Homo sapiens: one gene and its partners. The protein of the gene in region 3 purifies or fractionates together with the protein of the main gene of each other region. This does not show direct contact. Each region holds a gene or a part of one and is shown on either strand. Other genes may lie near its edges.

Region 1 (4,399 bases), about 96 Mb from region 3:
GTGCCACTGTACTTCAGCCTGGGCAACAGAGCAGGACTCCGTCTCCAAAAACCAACCAACCAACCAACCACACACTGGGGTACAGGTGCCCACACCAAAGAACCTCCCCCATACCCACTGCCAGAAGAATGTGAGTCAGAACTGACTATATGGCTCTCTTAATCTTTTTCAACCTAATAAGCTCAAAAAAAGCCCTTGTGAAGAACAAAAAACAATGGAGGTTCTATTAGAGTAAGGTCACCATCATATTGGTCAGCCATAAAGTTTCTTACATGACTATCTAGGATTCCCCTGACACTGAAGTCTGAGGTGATTAAGAAGCAAGGATGGGCAATGGAGTTATTCTACTGCTATATTCTGGAAAGGTACTTGCATGGCAACATACCTGTTAGAATCTAACAAAGCCTGAAAGCTTAGCACATTTTGCCAGCAAGATTGTCCTGAGGCACTGGGCCCATACTCAAGTGAGTAACACCACTACAGTACATTCCAGCACCAATAAACACAACCATCTGCTCAGTTCTACTATTATTTATTTTTTTAAATATTTTTGAAAAAATATAATTTTTTTACAATATTTTCAACTTAAACACTATTCACACTGAACACGTATGGCAGCTTAACCTACCCAAATATGAAGTTTAAGAAGCCAAAACTGTTCTAGCTTTGTTAAAAGTTGTGCTGCAGACTCTCGTGATGGTTAACAAAGCAAGGAAAAGCACCACTCAAATCATGTTACAGTATCTTTGTTCAGCTGGATTATGGGTTGGTATTGGTCATATGTTAGACTCCATACAGGCATAGCTATGATGCAGTGAATCCCTTAGAAGTTACAATTCTCAAATTACATACTTCCTCAGATGTAACATTAGAACTCAATATTTCTAACAATAACATACCAGAAAAGGCTGGACTGGCACTCATCTGCTGACTAACTTGTAGCCTCAGTAATATGACATACTTGCCTTTAACAAATTATCTCAAATTAACTAACAGACCTTCAGAAAATGGAGATTCTTTTTGATGGGGACATAATCAAATTTAAGTCTGAGAAATATGCTTAACAGTTGGAACTCAAATTAAATGTACTGATTTTAAAGTTTAGACATTAACAAGTGATAGATTAGCCTCAAAAAAAGACAATTTGGTAAGGTTTAGGTCTTTTAATTTGGTGCTTGTTCACAACTTGACTGGTGCTTCTTTCCTTGCTGTCTTCACATCAAGCCATGGGGCCAATTCTATTTTCAGTAAATGTTTGACAGCTTTTTACTTAGTAACAGTCTCAGCACTTTTATTAAGCATGCAAGACTAACAAAAACTTTGGCAATGCATAAGTGTAACACAGTGACAAGAGAGCTTTTACAATTAAGTCTTCTAATACTGCCTTCACAGTGTGGAAATTGTGCTACATCCACCAAAAGAGGGCCCCGTCTACTCAAATATTTCCGTACTTCACCCCAGGAACAAACTCCTTTGCATTTGGATTCAGATTGCTCTTGACCTGGAAAATAAGTACATAAAAAAGCAAGTTCATTAACACAGTTTCAGGTACTAATTCAATCTAGATCCTCATGCAAAAACATCTTCCAAAAAAAAAAAGACAAAAGAACTCAGTCTGTAAGACTATACTAAACCCCAAAAAGGAAGAACCAGATGTAAGCTATATATCATATTAAATTACATCAACTTTTTCTTTTCTTTTTTTGTGACGGAGTCTTGCTCTGTCGCCCAGGCTGGAGTGCAGTGGCACAATCTAGGCTTACTGCAACCTCTGCCACCTGGGTTCAAGCGATTCTCCTGCCTCAGCCTCCTGAGTAGCTGGGACTACAGGCGCGTGCCACCACACCCAACTAATTTTTTGTATTTTTATTTATTTATTTAGTTTTTTTTTTATGAGACGGAGTCTCACTCTGTCACCCAGGCTGCAGTGCAGTGGCGCGATCTCAGCTCACTGCAAGCTCCGCCTCCCGGGTTCACACCATTCTCCTGTCTCTCATCCTCCTGAGTAGCTGGGACTACAGGCGCCCACCGCCACGCCCAGCTAATTTTTTGTTGTATTTTTAGTAAAGACGGGGTTTCACCATGTTAGCCAGGATGGTCTCGATCTCCTGACCTCGTGATCCGCCCGCCTTGGCCTCCCAAAGTGCTGGGATTACAGGCGTAAGCCACCGCGCCCGGCCTAATTTTTCGTATTTTTAGTAGAGAAGGGGTTTCACCATGTTAGCCAGGATGGTGTTGATCTGACCTCGTGATCTGCCTGCCTCGGCCTCCTAAAATGCTGGGACTACAGGCGTGAGCCACTGCACCCGGCCTAAATTACATCAATTTTCTAAAGAGAAAATAGGAATTGAAATTCAGTTTGCTTAAGTGTAACCAGAAATCCAGTAACTTCACATAAGTTAAAGGAATAGCACGGAACAAGGAATTCTGTTAATCGAACTATGGTATGTAGCTTTCTTTAAACACTAAATACCAAGGAACCATGTTAAACAAGTGTTGAAATTATGATTAAAGTAACTGGGGAATTGCTGATTTTACTTTAGAATCCTCACTAAAAATGTGGAGTTGTTTTTCTACAATTGCCATCTTCTAATTCCCACAGGAAGCATGGTATATAACAGGAAAAGAAAACTACATGGGGAACCAGAAGACCTAAGCCTGAAATCCCAGCCCTGCCCCTAACTAACTTCTGTGTAAACTCAGATAAGTCACCTTTCTCTGGGATTCAAATTTTTGCATCAGTTAAAAAAAAAGGGGTGGGGGGGAATGGGCCAAAGTCTGAGTCTTAGAGACTTGTACCAATGTTATGCTATGTCTCTAAATCTTTACTCTCCTAAGTAGACTTGTCAGCATCTAGGAAGAACAGCTAGAAATTTTCCTCTGTGATATTTTAGACTGCAAGTTGAAAAAAATAAAAAGAAATGAGGGCAGGTTCCAGGGCCTGAAATGTAGGTATGCTGCAAGGCTTTTACATTGAATTTGACCCTACATCACTTCAAGACTAATGCATAATATTAAACATCATGTTGAAGAAATAATTTTAGTTTCGTAATTTATACATAGCAGTTTCTTTGGACAGGATATATTCTCCCTTCCCCCAAGGGAAATAATGTATCTACATTTTAAAAGTGTGAAGTTTAAGAAAAAAAAGCAGCATTCCTTTTCTCTTTTTTTGAGACATGGACTCGCTCTGTTGCTTAGACTGGAGGGCAGCGGAACAATCACAGCTCACTGCAGCATCGGCCTCCTGGGCTCAAGTGATCCTCTGGCCTCTGCCTCCCAAGTACCTGGGACCACAGGCCTGTGCCACCACACCCAGCTAACTTTAAACTTTTTGTAGAAACAGGGTCTCCCTTTGTTGCCCAGGCTGGTCTCGAACTCCTGGGCCAAAGTAATCTTCCCACTTTGGCCTCCCAAAGTGCTGGGATTACAAGCATGAGCCACCACATCCAGGCACAGTGTTCTTAAATGAACAATTTTCTGGGAGCAACAGAAGAATGAAACAAAGTAATATCAAATAGACTGAGAAGAACAAACCAGCTTCTGTACTATGGAATTATACTGGGTCCAGATTAAAGTTATACATTATGCTCAGCCAAGAGTGTTACTCTGCAGGGCAACTGGATTATTTATGGTGACTAATGTAGCCGTAAGTAATCATACCCCCCTCCAGACTATTCAGATCATACAGCTGCTCAAATGGGTTACCATCACTTACTGCAACAAAGGCTATATACCACAATGTAAACTTCAGTGCTCTCTACACCATCCTTTAGAAGAATGGTTTCCAAATGACCGACTCAGGCAAGTTGGCTGTATAATAAATCCTCTGTAGTACTTTTAAAAAATTAACATGCCCAGACAACTGAGCATGTTGGGATGTAACTAAAGAACTGATTTTTGTATTTAATGCTTCATAGGTAATCATGGTGTACAGATTAGTTCAGTGGACCCAGCCAGTTCTCACTCTAGTGCTGATGTTTAGTTATCACAATTCCCCCCACCCCGCTTTTTTTTTTTTTTTTTTTTTTGAGGTGGAGTCTCACTCTGTCGCCCAGGCTAGAGTGCAACGACACCATCTTGGTTCACCACAACCTCCACCTCCCAGATTCATGCGATTCTCCTGCCTTAGCCTCCCAGGTAGCTGGGATTACAGGCACGCACCACCACAACCAGCTAATTTTCTGTATACTTTTAGTAGAGACGGGGTTTCACCATGTTGGTCAGGCTGGTCTCGAACTCTTGACCTCGTGATCCGCGTGCCTCGGCGTCCCAAAGTGTTGGGATTACAGGCATGAGCCACTGCACCCAGCCAAGACAAGATTAAAGAGCAAAACTTCTCCATCAAGCTACTTCTGTATAGGCAAGTAACATGATAATATTGTGTGTGTTTTTAAAT
Region 2 (7,035 bases), on a different chromosome or scaffold from region 3:
TGATCTCATTGATCCTCAACAACAAGCCGGGCATGGTGGCTCATGCCTGTAATCCCAGCACTTTGGGAGGCCGAGGCTGGTGGATCACCTAAGGTCAGGAGTTCGAGACCAGCCTGGCCAACATGGTGAAACCCTGTCCCTACTAAAAATACAAAAATTAGCCAAGTATGGTGGCGCATGCCTGTAATCCCAGCTACTCAGGAGGCTGAGGCAGGAGAATCGCTTAGAACCCCGGAGGCAGAGGTTGCAGTGAGCCGAGATCACACCATTACTCTCCAGCCTGGGCGACAGAGCAAGACTCGATCTCAAAAAAAAAAAAAAAAAAAATTAAGGCTGGGCACAGTGGCTCATGCCTGTAATCTCAGCACTTTGGGAGGCTGAGGTGGGCGGATCACCTGAGATCAGGAGTTCAAGACCAACCTGACCAACATGGAGAAACCCCGTCTCTACTAAAAACACAAAATTACCCAGGCATGGTGGCGCATGCCTACAATCCCAGCTACTTGGGAAGCTGAGGCAGGACAATCGCTTGAACCTGGGAGGCGGAGGTTGCAGTGAGCAGAGATCATGCCATTGCACTCCAGCCTGGGCAACAAGAATGAAATTCTGCCTCAAAAAGAAAAAAAAAAACATTTAAATTCTCTACAATAAAATGGGGGTACTATTTTTGTCCCCATTTTAAAGATTAGGTGACAGATATAGTAGTCAGCAAGGGCCTCATAGTCAGTTGGTCCCAGGAACTGGAGGCCAAGCTAACTACCACGCTACAGTCTCCAAAGTCAGCTTTGCTCACCGAGAGGGCATATGGCAAGGTCACCATGGAGGCTGGTCCTGACTCCTAGTGCCAACTTTGCCCCACCCCCATTCCCCTTGGCCCTACCCACACTCACCTACTCTCTGGGTATGAGGCACCGTGCGTGGCACCTGGGTGGAGGCCTGCCTGACACTGCTGATGTGGGCCGGGGGGCGCCGAGGCACAACTGGTGGCCGGACCATTGAGGCACCTGGAGGGTAGGCAGCTTGTGGTGCAGACACCACAGAGAGAGAAAAGTTGGATGGAGTGGTGGGAATAATCAGGGTGGCACACTGTGCCTAGAAGCTTCCAGGGCCACCAAGAGAATGGGAAGGGAAACTACAACATTCACAACAGAAATAGGAGTCAATTCACTTAGACCCAGAACTCCAGAAAGGGGGAGTGTAGGAATCTACAATTTCAAAGCCAGCTCGTGTCTACCTAGAGCCCCAAACTGCATAAGCACCAGGATTGTACACCTTAGTCCCTCAAGATAGTTTCAAGTGAGCGTGCAATTCACTCTTACAGAGGAGGGCCTTTGGTCAACAATATAGCCAGAGGAATTTCACCTTCTCAGCTTTGCAAGAATTTTCAGAGTCACAAATCAGAGGCATCTTTGGTGATGACTGCTGGTGGCTAGCTGCGTGTCTTCCATTGGCTCACCACTGTGCTTGGTACTTTACACACGTCTCATTCAGGCCCATGCTCAGAAGAGGAAACTGAGGCTCAGAGAAGTGAAGTCACCCACCTTGGGAAGTGGCAGAGCCAGGTTTCATCCCTGTGTTATGACTGCCTCACGGGGCCCACACCAATAGGCCAGTCTGAGAGTGGAAGGGGCTGGGTCACTCACAGGAAGGTCTAGGTGGCTGGGATGTCCACCTGGGGGCAGGCTGGGTGGGTGTCACTGGGCCACAGCCATAGTATGCAGCCTGGGCTGGAGGCTGCATGGGAAAAGAAGACCCAGACTGAGGGGCTTGGCGGCAGGGTAGGTGAGAAGCTACACCTCCTCAGGGACACCATGGCAGGAACTCCACTGGCTCCTGCAGGGACTGGTGAGTCAAGACCCACAAGGCTGTAATGAAAGCTCCTTCCTCCCATCTCAGGATGTCCATTAGCCCTGAATCCTGCAGGGCAAAGATCTTAGATTTCAATCTTGGCTCCCTGTCAGCTAACCCAATGACCTGGATAAAAAGGGTGACATCTTACTCCAACTTGTGCAGCTTAAGCAACTGCTAAAAGGAGAGGAATGTTCTTACCGTGGTGGCCTTTAATGGGTGACATCTTTCTACTTCCTGTAAGTCCCACGAGGTCCTTTCCCAAACCATGCTCCTCAGAACATTAACATCCAGGGGAGATGTTAACAGGCATCCCACAAAAAAATGACCATCTAAGCTGGGGAAATGCTGGATAATCTGTGCCTGTTTTGGAGAGTCTCAGTAGACATTGGCATCTTAGGGTAGAATAGTGTAGATAGTAAAGAAATTTAGGGCCGATCATGGTGGCTCATGCCTGTAATCCCAGCACTTTAGGAGGTCAAGGAGGGCACATCACTTGAGGTCAGGAGTTCAAGACCAGCCTGGCCAACATGGTGAAACCCCGTCTCTACTAAAAATACAAAAAATTAGCTGAGTGTGGTGGCACGCACCTGTAATCCCAGCTACCCGGGAGGCTGAGGCACAAGAATCACTTGAACCCAGGAGGAAGAGTTTGCAGCGAGCCAAGATGGTGTCACTGCACTCCATTCTGGGCAACAGAGCAAGACTCTGTCTCCAAAAAAATAAAAATTTAATTTTTAAAAAAATGTAGGGCGGGGGACGGTGGCTTACTCCTGTAATGCCAGCACTTTGGGAGGCCAAGGCAGGAGAATTGCTTGAGCCCAGGAGTTTGAGACCAGCCTGGGCAACATGGCGAGACCCCTTCTTTAAAATAAACAAAAAAATTAGCTGGGCATGGTGGCACACACCTGTAGTCCCACCTACTCAGGAGGCTACAGTGGGAGGATCACTCAAGCCCAGGAATTCAAGGCTGCAGTGAGCCATGATCATGCCATTGCTCTCCAGCCTGGGTGACATGGAGACCCCGTGAAGGAAGGGAGGAAGGGAGGAAGGGAGGGAAGAAGGAAGGAGCCATGATCACGCCATTGCTCACCAGCCTGGGTGACATGGAGACCCCACGAAGGAAGGAAGGAAGGAAGGGAGGGAGGGAGGGAGGGAGGGAGGGAAGGGAAGGGAAGGGAAGGGAGGGAAGGGAGGGAAGGGAGGGAAGGGAAGGAAGGGAGGAAGGAAAAATGTAGGTCTTGCTTAACGCAGCATTTCCCAAACTTGCTGGATCATTAAGAGTCTTTTTCAGCACAACATTCACGAGCTTCTCTCACTGGGAAATGCCATTTGACTAACACTATCTCTCCCTTTTATAGAGAGGGAAACAAAGACTTCCTAATGAGTCCTCGGCAGAAGCAAGTTAGAAACCTCCATTTCCCTAGAACTCTAGTCTTCATGCTCTGCCTTGCTGGGGCAGGGGGGAAGGCTGCGGTGGGAGTTGCGGGCAGGCCGTCACCTGGGGCATGGCAGGCAGGAAGTAGCTGGAGGGCTGCTGAAAGGAGCCCAGGAGGGGGTTGCTCAGGGTCCGCATGGTGGAGAGGCGCTGCATGTACTGGTTGGTCAAGATGGCCTTCCGCTCCTCTTTGCGCTGGGCCAGTGCCACGTAGAGTGGCTTGGTGCCCACGATGCGCCCGTTCATCTCTGTCACGGCCTTTGTCGCCTCTTCTGGGGAGGAAAAACACACAAAGCCAAACCCCTTGCTGTGGCCACCCTCTGTCATCACCTAAAAGCAAGACAAGACAAGAGCTGCTGGGGTGGGGAAGGAAGGCTCCTGGGGCTGCGCTGCCTCCCTCCTCCCCATGGGCTAAGCCCAGCACTGGGCAGGCCCGCGAGAAAGCTGTGATGGAGGGATGTAGCGTGCACCCCTGTTTACTAAGCTGTGTTCGAGGGATGTAGTGTGCACCCCCGTTTAGCAAGCTGTGATGGAGGGATGTAGCGTGCACCCCCATTTACTGAGGAGTGATGGAGGGATGTAGCGTGCACCCTGTTTACTGAGCTGTTTGAGGGATGCAGCACGCACCCCCATCTATGAGGCCTGCTGCATGCCAGATACTTTACATGTCTTCACACCTCACATGTACAACCTCCCGATGCGGGAGGCATCGCGGCTCCCACTTTACAGCCGGGATAAGAGAGACTCGAAAGAGTGACTTGTCTGGGGTCACTCAGCCTGTGGTTCATACGTTAGCCAGGACTCAACCCAACACATTGTTCTGGTAAGCTTCTATCGCCTCTGCTAAGTACCAAGCCAAGTTCTTTAGGAATTTGGGGAAGAGGTTCTTAGCCTTTTTGTTAAAATAACCTTTTTACTTTGGAGTAACTTTAGATTTACAGAAAAAGTTACAAAAACAGTACAGAGGGTTGCTATATATCTTTTTTTTTTTTTTTGAGACATAGTTTCACTCTGTCACTCAGGCTAGAGTGGAGTGGCACGATCTCGGCTAACTGCAACCTCAGCCTCCCGGGTTCAAGCAATTCTCCTGCCTTAGCCTCCTGGGTAGATGGGACTACAGGCGTGTGCCACCACACCTGGCTAATTTTTGTATTTTCAGTAGAGAGAGGGTTTCACCATGTTGGCCAGGCTGGTCTCAAACTCCTGACCTCAAGTGATCTGCCTGCCTCAGCCTCCCAAAGTGCTGGGATTACAGGCGTGAGCCACCATGCCTGGCCTGCTGTATATCTTTCACCCAGTTTCCCCCAATGTGAACATGGTACATTTTTCAAAACTACAAAATTAACACTGGTGCAATGCTATTAACTATTTTATACCATTAGCTCCTATTAACTACAATGCTATTAACTGAACTCCAGACTTCACTGGAATTTCACTCTTTTTTCCCCTAATATTCTTTTTCTCTTCCAGGATCCAACCCACATGGCATTTAGGGTTTGTCTTTTTGTTTATTTGTTTGTTTTTTAAAGAGATGGGGTCTCACTCTGTCATCCAGGCTGGAGTGCAGTGGTATGATCATAGCTCACTGCAGCCTCAAACTCCCGGGCTCCAGGGATCCTCCTGCCTCAGCCTCTCAAGTAGTTAGGGCTATAGGTACATGCCACCACACCCAGCTAATTTTTTTTTTTAAGTTTGTAGAGATCAGCAATCACTATGTTGCCCAGGCTGGTCTCAAGAGATCCTCCTACCTAGGTCTCCCAAGGTGCAGGGATTACAGGCAGGAGCCACCACACCTGGCCCTGGGTTTTTAACCTTTTTTTAGGGTGAAGACACCGGCCTGGCTCATACAGCCCATAAGGACTAGAGTTATTTTTAAAATCTTCTTTTTTTCCTTTTTTTTTTTCTTTTTTTTTTTTTTTTTTTTTGAGTCAGGATCTCACTCTGTCACTCAGGCTGGAGTGCAGTGGTGCAATCTCAGCTCAACTGCACCCTCAACCTCTCAGCCTCAAGTGATCCTCTCAACTCAGTCTCCCAAGTAGCTGGGACTGCAGACAAGCACCACCATGCCTAATTTTGTTCATTTTTTGTAAAGATGAGGTCTCATCCTGTTGCCCCGGCTGGGCTTGAACTCCTGGTGAGCCCACGCTCTTAATCAGTAATTTTGAAACTGTACTCTGCTACCCTTCAGTAGAGGGGTCTTAACCTGAGAGTCCATGGATCCCCCTCAGGTAGGTCATGGATACAATTTAGGGGGAAATTGCATGGATTGGGGAAAAAGTGACATCTTTATTTTCATATTAGCATTTCCTTCTATTATGAATATGGGCAACAACAAAAAAATCCTGGCAGTATTAGCCATGAATTTGTCATGAAGAAAAAGAAAATATTTTCATATCACATTAATTATTGCTAATCTCAGCCGAGCGCAATGGCTTATGCCTGTAATCCCAGCACTTTGGGAGGCCAAGGTGGGCAGATCACCTGAGGTCAGGAGTTCGAGACCAGCCTGGCCAACATGGTGAAACCCCATCTCTACTAAAAATATACAAAAATTAGCTGGTTATGGTGGCGGGTGCCTGTAATCTCAGCTTCCCAGGAGGTTGAGGCAGAACCCAGGTTCTTGAACCTGGGAGGCAGAGGTTGTAGTGAGCCAAGATCATGCCACTGCGCTCCAGTCTGGGCGACAGAGTGGGACTTCGTCTCAAAAAAATAAAAATAAAAATAATAAAAGAAGCACATACTGCTTTCACTTTAGTATTTTGACCATTATATTTTTTCAGTATGATTTTTTTGTACACCTAAGAATCTTATTTTATGCATTTAAAAATATTCTTAGGGCCAGGTTTGGTGGCTCATGCCTATTTTTGGGAAGCAGAGGCGGAAGAATTGCTTGAGCCCAGGGGTTTGAGACCAGCCTGGGTAATATAAAAAATAATTATCCAGGCATAGTGGTGCTCCTATAGTCTCAGCTACTTGGGAGGCTGAGACAGGAGATCACTTGAGGCCAGGAGTTGGAGGCTGCAGTGAGCTGTGATGGCACCACTGCATTCCAGCCTGGGTGATAGAGCGAGACTCTGTCTCAAAAAAGTTTTTAAAAAATATTCTTAGAAGGGTTCCACAGGCTTCATCAGATAGCCAAAGGGCCGGGCACAGTGGCTCACGCCTGTAATCCTAGCACTTTGGGAGGCTGAGGCAGGTGGATCACCTGAGGTCAGAAGTTCGAGACCAGCCTGGCCAAAATAGTGACACCCCATCTCTACTAAAAATACAAAAAATTAGCTGGGCATGGTGAGAGGCGCCTGTAATCCCAGCTACTCAGGAGGCTGAAGCAGGAGAATCACTTGAACCCAGGAGGCAAAGGTTACAGTGAGCTAAGATTGCACCATTGCACTCTAGCCTGGGCAACAAGAGCAAAACTCCATCTCAAAAAAAAAAAAATATATATATATTGTTAAGAACTTCTGGCAGTCGGTAGTTAATAATGATAAAATTTAGCAAAGCTAACACTTATGCAGAGCTTACCATGAACTTGATAGTGGTATAAGTATTTATATCCATTAATTCCTTTAATTTTCATAATTATTTTTATATAAAACAAAATACAGGCCAGATGCAGTGGCTCATGCCTATAATCCCAGCACTTTGGGAGGCTGAGGTAGGAGGACTGCTTGAGCCCAGGAGTTCAAGACAAGCCTGGACAACACAGCAAGACTCCCAATTTCTACCAAAAAAAAATTTTTTTTTAAATC
Region 3 (7,035 bases):
TAAGATGCCCATAGCGTGTAACTTAATTCTACTTCCTTGCCCTAAAAAAACTTCTCTGTGCTAGAGACACAGGACAGTCAATGCTTGGAATCCAGAGGAAACAAATGGAAAAATTCCAACCATAAGCTGGTTGCAGTTTGTACCAAAGGGAAAAATTTCTCTTCCTCACTCTACAGTTCCATCTAATACAATTAAGGCAATCTTTCTATAAATGGTCCTCTTCTGGAAGAGGAAATGTGCAGAGATTTGGATTTTAATTAACTGTCACACACCAAGTATGAATGAAATGTGTAATTCTTCGTGTAAAGTATTAACCCATATTAATATATGTTGCTGACTATGCAGTGAACTAGAATCGTCTTTCCCCTCCATTCTAATCACCTGAAAATTTAAGATTATAAAAAAGTTAGAGGAAATATAAAATTAAAATAGTTGCATTTAATTGAGAATTCTTCCCATCCTCTGTTGTTAAGTGACAAGACATTATATGTGGAATCATACTTTCATTTGAAATGTTTCAAGTGGTCACTATGAAGAGCATTCTATATTAGACAAACCATTACACTGGTATTTTAGAATGATGTGAAGACATCAAAAAGTTACAATCTTGTGCTGGTGAGGATGTGGTTTTCTGTAAATTTACTACTTTACCAAACAACTGGGAGGAGGGAATGACTGTGAGACAACATACCTGGATCAGCTGCAGTGAAAGGAACACCATCAGATGTATAAAATGTTGGTTCATTCTAGGATGAATCAAAGTGATAAAAATATGTAATCATTTCAGAATTGATTTTTGTAAGTACAATAATGAAGCATGGCTGATGTCACCCGTCTGCACCTAATAATGCAAGAACAAGCAAAGGAACCTAACTTCCTGGTAGCCATTTTCACTTCACTGAGAAAGTCTATGGTTTTCAGATTTCCATGCCATTATCTCAAGTTCTTGTGGTTCTAACGGTGCTGTCTATTGTCTTTCAGTGAACTGTTCTGTTGTGCATTGTCATTTAGTGTCAGTGCATTTTTAGCTGTGGTTTCCAACCCCACCATTTCTTTTAAGAATTTCCAGGACCAGGGCTGGAGGAACATTTCTCCACAGCTGCTTTATGTTTGTTCATGTCAGGAGCTTCAGGGCATCACTGGCCTAGTAGCCATTTTTTTTTTTTCCCTGAGACAGAGTTGTGCTCTTGTTGCCTGGGCTGGAGTGCAATGGCGTGATTTCAGCTCACCACAACCTCTGCCTCCAGGCTTCAAGCAATTCTCCTGCCTCAGCCTCCCGAGTAGCTGGGATTACAGGCAAGTACTGCCACGCCCAGCTGACTTTGTAGTTTTAGTAGAGACGGGGTTTCTCCACGTTGGTCAGGCTGGTCTTGAACTCCTGACCTCAGGTGATCTGCCCACCTTGGCCTCCCAAAGCGCTGGGATTACAGGTGTGAGCCACTACGCCCAGCCAACCAATTTTATTTTATTTTTCGTTACTACAACATGCAAAGTAAAAGTCTGAGATGCAGGTCCTTGGTTATAAATTCTCTGGAAAAGCTGCTTCCTGGCATCCCTGTGCTCACTTAAGTCCAAGCCTTGTCAATCTCTCTTGCCATTGGATATATCTTTCTCTAGTCCACCCTTTCACTGGAGAATTCCAGGTCTCTTTTCTTTTTTACCCAGTCTGATGGCTGCCATGTCACTCAAAGCCAGTGAAGACAGTTATTAGGCACTGAATTCTGAGAACAGCTTTATGTAGCTCTTCTAATTTCCAAAACGGAATTCAAGCAATAAGTAAAACTTAAAATATAAACACTGGCATACCATAAAGTAGTTAGGATCATTTTCTGGTGTTGCTTCTCTATATGTTGAAGTTGCATGGACTCTGCCCCAGTTACTTGACCGGAGTTCTACAAGCTTCAAGAGCATCTGTTTTACATCTCTGTAGACAAAGTTGAAAATGAGTTAGTGTATCCACCATAAGGGCTGTCAGACCCTAAAATATCTCAGATTCCCAAAACTTTATTTCCTTAATTTAACAGGTACATCTGATGCCTTGACTTTCTAGACGTTTCCTATATGACATAAATTCATTTAAAAAAAAAATAGCCTTGAATTATGTTCCACGTAACTATGACTATATGGACCTTAAAGGCAGTGGCTATCCTTCAAACATTTTTATGTGTCCTACTATACTTACAGTAGTACTTTTATTTGTTGGACAGTTAATATTTGGATTTTGTTTTTCATTTAATTCATATCTTAAGAAAATTAGCTTTTTCAATTTCTAAATGTAATTGAGCAAAAATATCTGACACGTCTATCACAAAAATGTCTAGTGAGCAGAAACTATAGGTAAAATATTATTCCTTTAAAGAAAAGCATTTTTGTATATCCGTTAGCCATCAACTTACCCTGCTGAAGTATAGCAAATTAAAAAACAATCTCCAAAGAAAAAGCAAGAAATTGAGATGCACTGGCTATTTACATTACTTCTTTTCCTACCTACTGCAGTTTGCATCTAGGACAACGTTTTCAATTCTCTGAATAATTTCTTCCATATCCATCTTTCCTTTTTCCTTCCAAGCATCTTCCAAAACTGATCCTGTCAACTAAAAAAGCAGGTGTCAGTAAAATAAGAAATTCAATAGTGTATTATAGAAATTCTAAAAAGATACCAGTAACAGTTCAAGCATTCTCTAAACAAGATGAATTTAGCAAGTTTAATATTCCTAATTATTCTGTCTACCATCTAATATTCAGTGATCTCTACGCCCTCTATATTTCTCTTGACTGAGAGAAACTAAAACAAAAAAAACAATAGCAGAACTTTAATCATGGGTTTTATGTCAACGACTGTTATATTCCCTGTATGACTAAGATAGGCTATTAGATTTTAATGAACATGTCACTTTTTTTGAAATATACAGCAAGCAACAAGTATAGAAGCTTTGAATAAAAAAAAAAAACACAAACATGCATTTCATCAGGAAATAAATCAGTTAAGGATTTAAACAGGTAATTTATAGGAAATAATAAACAAATGGCTAATAAACATGAAGAAATGCTTAAAATCATCTGACAAAACAAAAACCAAGATTGATTATATCCATCACTATAAGGATGTAGGAAGAGATGTACTCATTCTGCTGATGGGGCTATACTCTGGTTCAGCATTTGGAAGGCAAATTAGCCATTACTTGTCGTAAAATACATATGCTCGTCCACCCACCAAATCCGTGTTTAAGAATTTAACCTACAAAAGTATCTGCACATATATATGACAAGAGGAAAGATTACAAGCAATGCTGCCATGGCTAAACTGAAGATAATCCAAATATTCATTAGTAAACATTGATAGATGTTACGGAATGGATAAACAATGCATATGCATATGACAGAATACTAGGAAGTTATTCAATAAAAGAGGTAAATCTCTGTGCCATGGAAAAATCTAAGATGTTTCATTAGGTGGCAAAAACAAAAACAAAAAGCCAGAACAGAGTAAGATCTTATTTAATAAGAGCACATATACAGAGATAAGAAGGGAAGAAGACAGAATTTGCAAATGGAAATGGCGTAAAGGACTTCCATTTTTCACTTCTGAACTTGCTTCATATATTAAACAATAAGTATATCTCGCTTTTCCAAAATATTCGAGAAAAAAGTAAAATGTCAATATTTACCTTAAAGTGATAAATCTTGAATTCATCTGTATACTATATAGACTAACCTTCCTCTAAATCATAAGTAAATACGTAAATTAGTTAAATTAAAAAAAAAAACCTACCTTTAACAATTTTACTGCACAAATTAAATTGTCATCCATAGGATTAGAAAACAGGGCATTCAGCAATTCTCGAAGACCAACCTGAAGAATATCTGCTCTTGTAACCTGTCCATTTGTTCCCTTGATCTTTCGGGACCAAAAAAAAGAACAAAAGGAATGATGCCAAAATATAATACAGATACATAAATGAACTAACAAGGTGTTGGCAAAATAAGCATTTTAGCTAAATCACAAAAGTCACAGGAACACACTCTGATATCTTCACAGAATTTGTTAGAATTACTTTATATGTAACTAAGACCTCTAATAAAACTGGTAAGCTATGGGTAAAATTTAATACCAGAGTCAGCATAATTTAAGCCCACTTTGATGTTACTACTTCATAAAGCTTTCTTTAGTTTGTTCAACTACCACTTTTTTTTGAACACACAGCATTTTATTCTGCTTTTAAAATATTTTAAAATATGGTATTTTGCATCAGAGTGGTATATGTATCTTATATCACTGTGTAGAAGAATTTTAGGTGCAGGAACTAAGCCTTATCTTTACATCCCCCATTGACCTAGCATCATTATCTCCATATAGAAAATGCTCAACAGTATTTATTTTAGATTGCTGTCCATATTTTGGCTTAAACAAAAATTAGACTGAAAAAGAACATGGCATAAGATTTTTCAAAAAACTAAGTCTACCTGTGGTAAAAAGGCATAGTAAGTTAGGCTCTGGACTGGACATAGACCTTTTAGATACAATGACTGAGATGCACATTTGATAGATTCACATTGTCTTATGATGTTTCTGATATTATGGCGTTTACGATCTTAAGTTCTCAAATCAGGGTGTAAGAAGGTATAAGCTTATATCTGATATTCACTAATTTAAAAAATCAAGCAGAGGCTGGGCATGGTGGCTCATGCCTGTAATCCCAGCACTCTGGGAGGCTGAGGCGGGTAGCACCTGAGGTCAGGAGTTTGAGACCAGCGTGGCCAACATGGTGAAACCCCATCTCTGCTAAAAATATAAACATTAGCCAGGCATAGTGGTACGTGCCTGTAATCCCAGCTGCTCAGAAGGCTGAAGCAGGAGAATCGCTTGAACCCGGGAGGCGGAGGTTGTAGTGAGCCGAGATCACGTCACTGCACTCCAGCCTGGGTGACAGAGCGAGACTGTCCCCACCCAAAAAAAAAAAAAAAAAAAAAAAATCAAGCAAATCTATTACACAGTAATAATGCCGTGCTGAATCCAGCACTTCTATTGCCTACTAACAAGCATATACTTAAGTATACCACCCAAATTTATAAATACGTTTAGCTGTAGACTTTGTACAAATGCATTTTTATGTGGAAGATTAATATATAAAATAGGACAAAAAAGAACTATTCTTAGGGGTTGGGGTATTGGGGAGATGTTGGTCAAAGGACACAGAATTTCATTTAGGGGGAATAAGTTCAAGAGATCTCTTGTACACCATGATGACTATAGTTAACAATATATTGTATACATGAAAACTGCTAAAAATTTTAAGTGTTCTTAACACAAAAAAGTATGTCAAGTAATGCATATGTTAAATAGCTTGATTTAGCCATTCTACGATGTATGCATATATCAAAGTGTTGTGTACCATAAAGATATAATTTTTGTCAATTAAAAAAATATTTTTAAAAAACTATTTGGGTGAATTAGAGTGAAAAGCCTAGAGAGACTCTAGTCTCTCTTTTCACTCAGAGTTCTGCAGAGTAAACTGCTTTGAGCCACCATCTGAAAGTCAACATACTAAATGTATTAATATATAAGATGTAAGAACTCAAAAAGGTATCACTGTTGATATCTCAAGAACTTAAATTTGCATGTAAACCACAGCTTCCTAAAAGTACGCAGATTTTTACCTCAGTAATTATTTCCTAACATTCTGTCCATGAGTAAATGTTATGGACAGACGGTCCAGTAAACCACAGACACTAGCAGGTGCCGAAACATGTTTTCTTTCCTCTCTCTTTCATTTCACTCTTAATGTTGTAAAAGTACAATGTGAACACAAATTCCTCATTGAGATCAACTTATGTTCTCAGGCCTTGTTAGTACTTAACAAAAGAAAAACTTCTCACCTCCAGGTTAAGATAAAGTTCTCCCAGAAAGAGTACAAATGCATGAAATCGTTTTCGAGTAACTTCATCCCCTTTTGCAGCTTGATCTTTAACTTCATATTCAGTCCGACATCTAATTAAAGACATATCTTTTATAATCTCACATTGCTTTGCTTTTTAAATAGTCAAACAAAATAACCATTTGTCAGTTTGGTTGTCCACAGCAAGAGGCAAGGACAATGTCCCAATGCTCTTTCTACAATAAAGAAACTGTTCCTGACTATTGAAGAGGCTAGAATATACACCATCTTTTCATACTAAGTCTCCCAGTTTGAAAAAACTGATAGTTTTATTTTCAACGATTTTTATCAAATTTAATATGTTTAAGCAACATAGGTGTAATCTGATTCACAGCATACTGGCAGCCCAAAGAGGGGAGAGAGAGCCTCACCTTGTCTTATAGGTTTTTTACTAAGAAAGCACTGATTTTACCCAAATTGTCTCTGTAATTTTTTTTTTAATACTACAACTTTGAAAAGGATCTTTAAATACACACACACACACACACACACACACACACACACAACCTCCAACTGAAAATAAAATGAATTGTTTTTAAGTCCATTATTCTTGTAATTTCCATTATACGTATCAGAGAAGTACTAATGTGAGGAAAAAATTCCCCCATTAAAACCACAATATAGAAAGCACCGGACTTGTTTTCTATTTCCAATGAGACTGACAGCTTCAAATAACTGATTTTTCCTTGCTCTCTTTGCCCCTGACTTGACCCATTTGCTTCACACAGAGGAGAAAAAGAAGAAATCCTCTTCTTGGAGCTTATTGTCAGTCATAGTTCCTACAAGGTAACTAAACTAGGCACAATAATCCTGTCACTGCCTTCATAAGTGAACTACAGTGTCAGATATTGTTACTAACATAGATTTTTTAAATGGACTGTAAAAGTTTATCATTTTGTTATTAAGTATTTGTAATCTTTATTGATAAGGTGAGAAAACTCTGGGAAAGTAACTTGCTTCACAAAACTGGTTTTGACAGTTTTCCTTTTCAAGACAAAGGGAAAAGCTATGGGTACTGAATGGTTTCCACGCAGCCAGTTTAGGTTGACTTTGTAAACAATTTTTAACAAAGAAAAAATAAATTACCTCTTGTTCAGTA

Evidence for each region.
Region 1: the proteins of PAIP1 (region 3) and PAIP2 purify together in Homo sapiens (affinity purification with mass spectrometry; 3 studies listed by BioGRID and IntAct, with this or other methods). This does not show direct contact.
Region 2: the proteins of PAIP1 (region 3) and PABPC1L purify together in Homo sapiens (affinity purification with mass spectrometry; 3 studies listed by BioGRID and IntAct, with this or other methods). This does not show direct contact.

Annotation. Positions count from the first base shown.
Region 1 is NC_000005.10:139,365,835-139,370,233, reverse strand, and holds the end of PAIP2 (polyadenylate-binding protein-interacting protein 2), read right to left. Parts: intron 3,039-4,399; exon of another isoform or gene 2,603-3,038; intron 1,502-2,602; coding exon 1,436-1,501; 3' UTR 517-1,435; downstream 1-516. UniProt on the Homo sapiens protein: Acts as a repressor in the regulation of translation initiation of poly(A)-containing mRNAs. Its inhibitory activity on translation is mediated via its action on PABPC1.
Region 2 is NC_000020.11:44,927,041-44,934,075, reverse strand, and holds part of PABPC1L (polyadenylate-binding protein 1-like), read right to left. Parts: intron 3,617-7,035; coding exon 3,350-3,616; exon of another isoform or gene 1,735-3,349; coding exon 1,644-1,734; exon of another isoform or gene 1,020-1,643; coding exon 891-1,019; intron 1-890. UniProt on the Homo sapiens protein: Poly(A)-binding protein involved in oocyte maturation and early embryo development. It is required for cytosolic mRNA polyadenylation and translational activation of maternally stored mRNA in oocytes.
Region 3 is NC_000005.10:43,533,047-43,540,081, forward strand, and holds part of PAIP1 (polyadenylate-binding protein-interacting protein 1), read right to left. Parts: intron 5,990-7,035; coding exon 5,878-5,989; intron 3,899-5,877; coding exon 3,773-3,898; intron 2,595-3,772; coding exon 2,488-2,594; intron 1,925-2,487; coding exon 1,807-1,924; intron 747-1,806; coding exon 692-746; intron 1-691. UniProt on the Homo sapiens protein: Acts as a coactivator in the regulation of translation initiation of poly(A)-containing mRNAs. Its stimulatory activity on translation is mediated via its action on PABPC1. Competes with PAIP2 for binding to PABPC1.